Linked DNA regions of Homo sapiens. The protein of the gene in region 1 interacts with the protein of each later gene in a pairwise test. Each region holds a gene or a part of one and is shown on either strand. Other genes may lie near its edges. The genes, in order: TGFB1I1 and HIPK3.

What was found.
Region 2: the proteins of TGFB1I1 (region 1) and HIPK3 interact in a two-hybrid assay, tested with the Homo sapiens proteins (one large-scale study listed by BioGRID and IntAct).

Annotation. Positions count from the first base shown.
Region 1 is NC_000016.10:31,474,866-31,478,489, forward strand, and holds the end of TGFB1I1 (transforming growth factor beta-1-induced transcript 1 protein), read left to right. Parts: intron 1-1,146; coding exon 1,147-1,320; intron 1,321-1,615; coding exon 1,616-1,697; intron 1,698-1,996; coding exon 1,997-2,145; intron 2,146-2,444; coding exon 2,445-2,711; 3' UTR 2,712-3,093; downstream 3,094-3,624. UniProt on the Homo sapiens protein: Functions as a molecular adapter coordinating multiple protein-protein interactions at the focal adhesion complex and in the nucleus. Links various intracellular signaling modules to plasma membrane receptors and regulates the Wnt and TGFB signaling pathways.
Region 2 is NC_000011.10:33,284,604-33,288,420, forward strand, and holds part of HIPK3 (homeodomain-interacting protein kinase 3), read left to right. Parts: intron 1-1,809; coding exon of another isoform or gene 1,810-1,811; coding exon 1,812-2,908; intron 2,909-3,817. UniProt on the Homo sapiens protein: Serine/threonine-protein kinase involved in transcription regulation, apoptosis and steroidogenic gene expression. Phosphorylates JUN and RUNX2. Seems to negatively regulate apoptosis by promoting FADD phosphorylation.

The DNA.
Region 1 (3,624 bases):
TATCATTATTACTTATGTTTTATGGATGAGGAAACTGAAGCTCTGAACCACACAGCAGGTTAGTGGTAGGGTGAAAATTCCAACCATGTTACCATTTATTGTGGTCCTACTGTGTGCCAGGCACTGTGCCAGCTCCTTTACAAACCCTCATCTCATCTGATCTTCACAAAACACTCTGTGGCTCCACCCAATATCTCTCAGGCATCTACAAAGGCTCTCTCTTCCTCCGTCAGAGTCTGGACTGGGTTCACTGGTCCTTGTTTTATTGACTGAGCAGATGTGATTGACAACAGCTGTGCCTAGGGGTTAACCTAGTGCCCCCTGCTAGATCAAGTACCTGACTCCCAGCCCAGAATTGCCCATCTCAGCAAAGGAGGGTGGCATTGTGACTTTTGTGGATCATAGGCACTTTCATCTTCATGAGTCCCTTCGTCCATTAAAATAAATAGATTTTTATGTCTGTGTTGGTGTAAAGATGGGTATGTTATTATTGTGTATTACAGCATTTTCTTCTAGTTCATTTTTTTATTCTGAATTTTTAAAAACGGATTTTTCACTTCCTCCCTCTTATTTATTTTGAGGCAAATTCTCACTCTTGTGACCCAAGCTGGAGTGCAGTGGTGCGATTGTGGCTCACTGCAGCCTCGACCTTCTGGGCTCAAGTGATCCTCCCAGCTCAGCCTCCCGAGTAGCTGGGACTAAAGGCGCCCGCCACCTCGCCCAGCTAATTTTATTTATTTATTGTAGAGATGGGGCTTCGCCATGTTGCCCAGGCTGGTCTCAAACTCCTGGACTCAAGTAATCCTCCCACCTCAGCCTCCCAAATGCTAGGATTAGAGGCACGAGCCACCCAGCCTGATCGTATTTTGATTTTAAAAAAATTAAAACGTTTTTATGGGCCCCTAAATGTATTGTGGGCTCCAGGCGCTGTGCCTGCTGTGCCTCATGTATAGGTCAATCCTGGAGCGCAGCTGGAAGACGGAACACGGGAGCTAGATCTCCATCGCTTACAGGCTGCGTGATCTCGAACACTGGATTCTTTATTCTGATCGCTCAGAGAGGACTCGAAAAACGCCGCGTAAATCTTGCCTCACTGGGCATGTGGTTGTCAGAGCCGCTCTGACCCGCCTCACCTCCCACTCGCAGGTGGTGACGGCTCTGGGCCGCGCCTGGCACCCCGAGCACTTCGTTTGCGGAGGCTGTTCCACCGCCCTGGGAGGCAGCAGCTTCTTCGAGAAGGATGGAGCCCCCTTCTGCCCCGAGTGCTACTTTGAGCGCTTCTCGCCAAGATGTGGCTTCTGCAACCAGCCCATCCGACACGTGAGCCCCGCCCGGCCGCACCGAGCCCGCCCTATCTCACCAGGAGAGCTGTGGGACGGGCCTCCACCGCATGGGTCCCGCCCCACCCGCGATACCCCACTCCACCCCTACCCCTTCCCCTTGGCAATGTCCACGGCCCCTTGGACTCCACTCTTCCTTTCTGACCCCCACGTTCCTAGTTAGATCTTCTCCCCCTCCCCCCACGCATGCCTTAGTCCAGTCACCCGGGTTCCGCGCGGGAGAGGAAGGCGCGAAGGCACGGAGGCCGCGCTGAGTGCCCTCTCCCTCCCTGCAGAAGATGGTGACCGCCTTGGGCACTCACTGGCACCCAGAGCATTTCTGCTGCGTCAGTTGCGGGGAGCCCTTCGGAGATGAGGGTGAGAGTGAACTCGACTCCCATCTTAAAAGCTGCGGGTCCCCTCGACGTCTCGCCCCAGCCCCTCCGACCTCCGGAGTCCTCAGGGCCATGGTTTTCCTTCTGCTCTCTTCTGGCCCTGCCCTCTCCTACACAGACTCCGGACCCGAGCCCTCCCCGCTCTGTCCCGCCATAGACCCGGCTCCTCCTTCCCCAAGGCTCCCTCGGACTGCCCCTCCTTCGGCCCCAGATCTCAGGTCTTGTGGGTCCCCCGTCCCGCCCGCACCCTTTGCTTTCAGCCCACTCGGTTCCCTCTCCTAGGTTTCCACGAGCGCGAGGGCCGCCCCTACTGCCGCCGGGACTTCCTGCAGCTGTTCGCCCCGCGCTGCCAGGGCTGCCAGGGCCCCATCCTGGATAACTACATCTCGGCGCTCAGCGCGCTCTGGCACCCGGACTGTTTCGTCTGCAGGGTGCGAGCTGCGGGGCGGGGCGTTGGAGGGGCGGGTCAAGGGTACAGGGCTGTGGGGCGGGGCCTTGGAGGGGCGGGTCAAGGGTGCAGGGCAGGGGGCGGGCCCTCGGGGGGGCGGGTCACGGGAGGTGCTGCTAGGAACCTCGGGTGGGGCGAGTTTTCCGGGCAGGGTCCCACCGGACGGGATTCTTCGCGTCTAGGGCGGGCTGCGGGGTCCCAGGGCGTTATCCGCTAGTAACGCGCGTTGTCTGGCAGTGGCCGCTGACCTGTCTGTCCTCTTTCGCGGCTTCCCTTCCCCAGGAATGCTTCGCGCCCTTCTCGGGAGGCAGCTTTTTCGAGCACGAGGGCCGCCCGTTGTGCGAGAACCACTTCCACGCACGACGCGGCTCGCTGTGCGCCACGTGTGGCCTCCCTGTGACCGGCCGCTGCGTGTCGGCCCTGGGTCGCCGCTTCCACCCGGACCACTTCACATGCACCTTCTGCCTGCGCCCGCTCACCAAGGGGTCCTTCCAGGAGCGCGCCGGCAAGCCCTACTGCCAGCCCTGCTTCCTGAAGCTCTTCGGCTGACAGCCCGCTCGGCTCGCCCTCTCCCCCGGAGGCCGCGCCCTCCCGGAAAAGCCGGGTCCTCCAGACCCCGAGGCCTTGCTCTCAGAGCGGGAGGCCCCACCCACTGGAGAGCCCCGCCCCTAAGGTACTATGAGTCCTCAGGGGTCAAGTTCAGAAACGGCCCAGCCAGACCTAAACCCACACGCCCACAAAGTGGATTGCACACAGACAAGAACTCCCGTGCGGGCCTCCACTCTATTCCCACCCTTGAGGGAGCCCCCTTACTGGGGGAGGGTCCTTGCAATTCCAGCGAATCGGAGGCCAGGCCAGGACGTCCTTGCTCCCTGCACCCTCACTGTTCTGTGCACTTTTTCTACCTACATAAACACACGCATTCCACCTCTCCCTGGTGCTGTCTCTGAATGCGCGCAGGAGCTTGGCCCTGACTCCCCACCCCCGCGCTGGCTCTGTCCCCGGCCGTCTCTAGGTCACTGCCCTGTGGCCGCAGCGGGACCTGCAGCCTCAGCCCTTGCAGGTAGCCACTCCTGCACTTCCTACTTCAAGTATCAGATGAGCCTGAGGCTGGAAAGTGTGGCGACTCGCGCAGGACTGTACAGATAGTGGCAGAGCCAGGACAAGAGCTCCAACTGGGGCCCCACCGAATATTCCCGCCCTCATTACTCTTTCTTCAGTTCTATATTTTGTTTTGTTTTGTTTTGTCCTAAGAGATGAGGTCTCACTTTGTCGCCCAGGCTGGAGTACAGTGGTGCCATAGCTCACTGCAACCTCGAACTCCTGGTCTTGAGCGATCCTCCCGCCTTGGCCTCCCAAAGTACTGGGATTGCAGGTGTGAGCCACTGTGCCCGCCCTTCCCTTTATTCTTGAAATAAGCGCTTACAGTGGTTCATGCCTGTAATCCTGGCACTGTGGGAGG
Region 2 (3,817 bases), on another chromosome or scaffold:
GCTATGATTGTGCCACTGCACTGCAGACTAGGCGAGACCTTGTTAAAAGAAGAAAGGGTAGATGTGCAGAAAAACATTAAGAGAACATAATGCAAAGTTCCTGTATCTGGCTTCTCAGCTTATTTTTACACTTGATCATTTGTATTAGGATTTTACCATTAGGGAAATTCCAAGATAATTTTGTGCAAGTAGAAAACATGGAGTATTACTTAAAGTGATGATTCTGTCAAATGGTGGTTTTGACGTACACGTTTATATATTGTTGTGGCAGACCAAGTAGATGGAAGGCAGATCTAACACCTGTGTAATTATCAGTTTTTCTAGCTATGGTACTGAGGATTCATTCTTATGTGTGTATATGTTTTGAGTTCCTATAGATAGGTCAGCAGTTGCTAGGTTGATTTCATATTTTATAAATTCTAATTTGGTAAAATAAGGTCATAGGGGAGAATATTAAATATGCCAGAATAAAACTGGATCCTCTTTCATATCTATGTTATATCTGAATCAAATAATGTTTATAAAATCATTATACATTTAATGGTTGTGTGGTAAGAATGTTGGCTATTTCAGCCTCAATAAACTCACATCCTTTTTGGATGCAGGCATAAAATAAATAGAATGTCATTTAGTCCTTGAGAACCTTAGAATGATTTTAAATCTGTTTTTCAAATATGATTTGAAATTTGATTTGAAAATATGATTTGAAAATTTCAAATATTTTCCAATATATTTGGAGGAAGTTTAAAGGAATATCCATATAATAAAGTACACATTGAGAAGAATGGGAACATGAATATAACTGGGTAGAAAGTCATTAACTTGTCTTTGTAATATAATGCTTTTTAAGATCAAAGGATAATATTTTTAGTAAATAGAATGTAGCATCAGCTATTCATGAAATTGGCACCCTAATTTTATTTAAAATCCCTGCCATAGGTGGGGCATAGCGAAACTCTGTCTCAAAAAAAAAAAATATATATATATATATATAGTTAAAGCAGACATAGATTTTTTTTCCTCCTGAGGCAATTCTTGGGCTTTAGGTTTAAGAAATATGGCTATAAACTATGTTTATATAATGTATATTTTCTTTTCTTGTCATTGGTTCATACATTTGAATTTGGTAATAGAATGTTTTACTTTTGTCAAATGTGTACAGTTAAAGGATCTGTACTTTTTTTTTGAGACAGAGTCTTGCTCTGTCTCACAGGCTGAAGTGCAGTGGTGCAATCTCGGCTCACTGCAACCTCCACCTCCCAGGTTCAAGCGATTCTCCTCCCTCAGCCTCCCGAGTAGCTGGGACCACAGGCATGCACCACCATCCCCAGCTAATTTTTGCATTATTAGTAGAGTTGGGATTTCTTCACCGTGTTGGCCAGGCTGGTCTTGGACTCCTGACCTCAAGTGATCCAACTGCCTCAGCCTCTCAAAGTGCTAGGATTACAGGGATCTATACTTTTCTTTTGAGGGAAAATGTTGGCACCGTTTCTAGGGCATATTGGCCATTTCAGCTTCTCAGTAAATATTTGTTAAGTAATTAAATGCACTTGATTCTTTATTCTTAGCCTTTTAACGCAATACTCAGAATAGCTGAAGCACCAATTAACTGAAATGGAGATATTATAAAGATAGTTATCTTCTCCAAGGGAAAAAATCATCTTCATGGAAATTAATTACTTTTTTACAAATTGTGAATTTGACCCTTAAGAGTTTTCTTCCTGATATTTAAAATTGAAAAAAAAATTGTTGACATTAATATTTCTTCTTTCCTTTTTTTTCTTTTCCTTTTTTTTTTTTTTTTTGCAGGTATGGCCTCACAAGTCTTGGTCTACCCACCATATGTTTATCAAACTCAGTCAAGTGCCTTTTGTAGTGTGAAGAAACTCAAAGTAGAGCCAAGCAGTTGTGTATTCCAGGAAAGAAACTATCCACGGACCTATGTGAATGGTAGAAACTTTGGAAATTCTCATCCTCCCACTAAGGGTAGTGCTTTTCAGACAAAGATACCATTTAATAGACCTCGAGGACACAACTTTTCATTGCAGACAAGTGCTGTTGTTTTGAAAAACACTGCAGGTGCTACAAAGGTCATAGCAGCTCAGGCACAGCAAGCTCACGTGCAGGCACCTCAGATTGGGGCGTGGCGAAACAGATTGCATTTCCTAGAAGGCCCCCAGCGATGTGGATTGAAGCGCAAGAGTGAGGAGTTGGATAATCATAGCAGCGCAATGCAGATTGTCGATGAATTGTCCATACTTCCTGCAATGTTGCAAACCAACATGGGAAATCCAGTGACAGTTGTGACAGCTACCACAGGATCAAAACAGAATTGTACCACTGGAGAAGGTGACTATCAGTTAGTACAGCATGAAGTCTTATGCTCCATGAAAAATACTTACGAAGTCCTTGATTTTCTTGGTCGAGGCACGTTTGGCCAGGTAGTTAAATGCTGGAAAAGAGGGACAAATGAAATTGTAGCAATCAAAATTTTGAAGAATCATCCTTCTTATGCCCGTCAAGGTCAAATAGAAGTGAGCATATTAGCAAGGCTCAGTACTGAAAATGCTGATGAATATAACTTTGTACGAGCTTATGAATGCTTTCAGCACCGTAACCATACTTGTTTAGTCTTTGAGATGCTGGAACAAAACTTGTATGACTTTCTGAAACAAAATAAATTTAGTCCCCTGCCACTAAAAGTGATTCGGCCCATTCTTCAACAAGTGGCCACTGCACTGAAAAAATTGAAAAGTCTTGGTTTAATTCATGCTGATCTCAAGCCAGAGAATATTATGTTGGTGGATCCTGTTCGGCAGCCTTACAGGGTTAAAGTAATAGACTTTGGGTCGGCCAGTCATGTATCAAAGACTGTTTGTTCAACATATCTACAATCTCGGTACTACAGGTAGGTAACAACTCCATACTTTTTGGTTGTTTATTAATGTGAAATTTCTGCTAAATGAAATACTTTTGTGTGTGTTTGTGGTAGAAGAGACCACTTCAGTTAAATAAGGAAATCAAGAGAGGATCAATTTAGGTTCGTTTTAAAGAGATTAAAAAAAATCAAGACATAAAATCTACCCAAGCAGGATAGAAATCTCCACTGCAAAGTTCCATGCCAAAGACATCTGGTTATTTTTATTTTTAATGGAAGACTTGAAGGAATGATAGGTGATTAATAATGATCAAACAGAAGTCTTTAAATGTTGGAAAGTATTTACATTAATCTTTGTATATATCATTGGGCATTTTAGCACTTGAGAGAAATAGTTTATTAAAGATATAATCAATCATATGTAACTGAACATTTAGAAAAATTATATACAGGTTTGAGTAGCCCTTATCTGAAACTTTTGGGGCCAGAAGTGTTTTGGATTCCAGATTTTTCCGGATTTTGGAATATTTGCACTGCCAACTAGTTAAGCACCCCCAAATTTGAAAATTCGTTTCCTTTGAGTGTCATGTCAATGCCCAAAAAGTTTCAGATATTTGGATTTGAGATGCTCAACCTGTATAAGGATTCAGAAAGTTATTCTGATTAATGATTTTAAGATTCAGATATACAGCCGGGTGCAGTGGCTCATGCCTGTAATCCCTGCACTTAGGGAGGCTGAGGCGGGTGGATGACCTGAGGTTAGGAGTTCAAGACCAGCCTGGCCAACATGGCGAAACCCCCATCTCTACTAAAAATAACAAAAATTAGCTGGGTGTGGTGGTGGGTGTCTATAATCCCAGCAACTTGGGAGGCTGAGGCAGGAGAATCACTTGAACCCAGGAGATGGAGGTTGCAGTGAGCCGAGATCATGCCATTGCA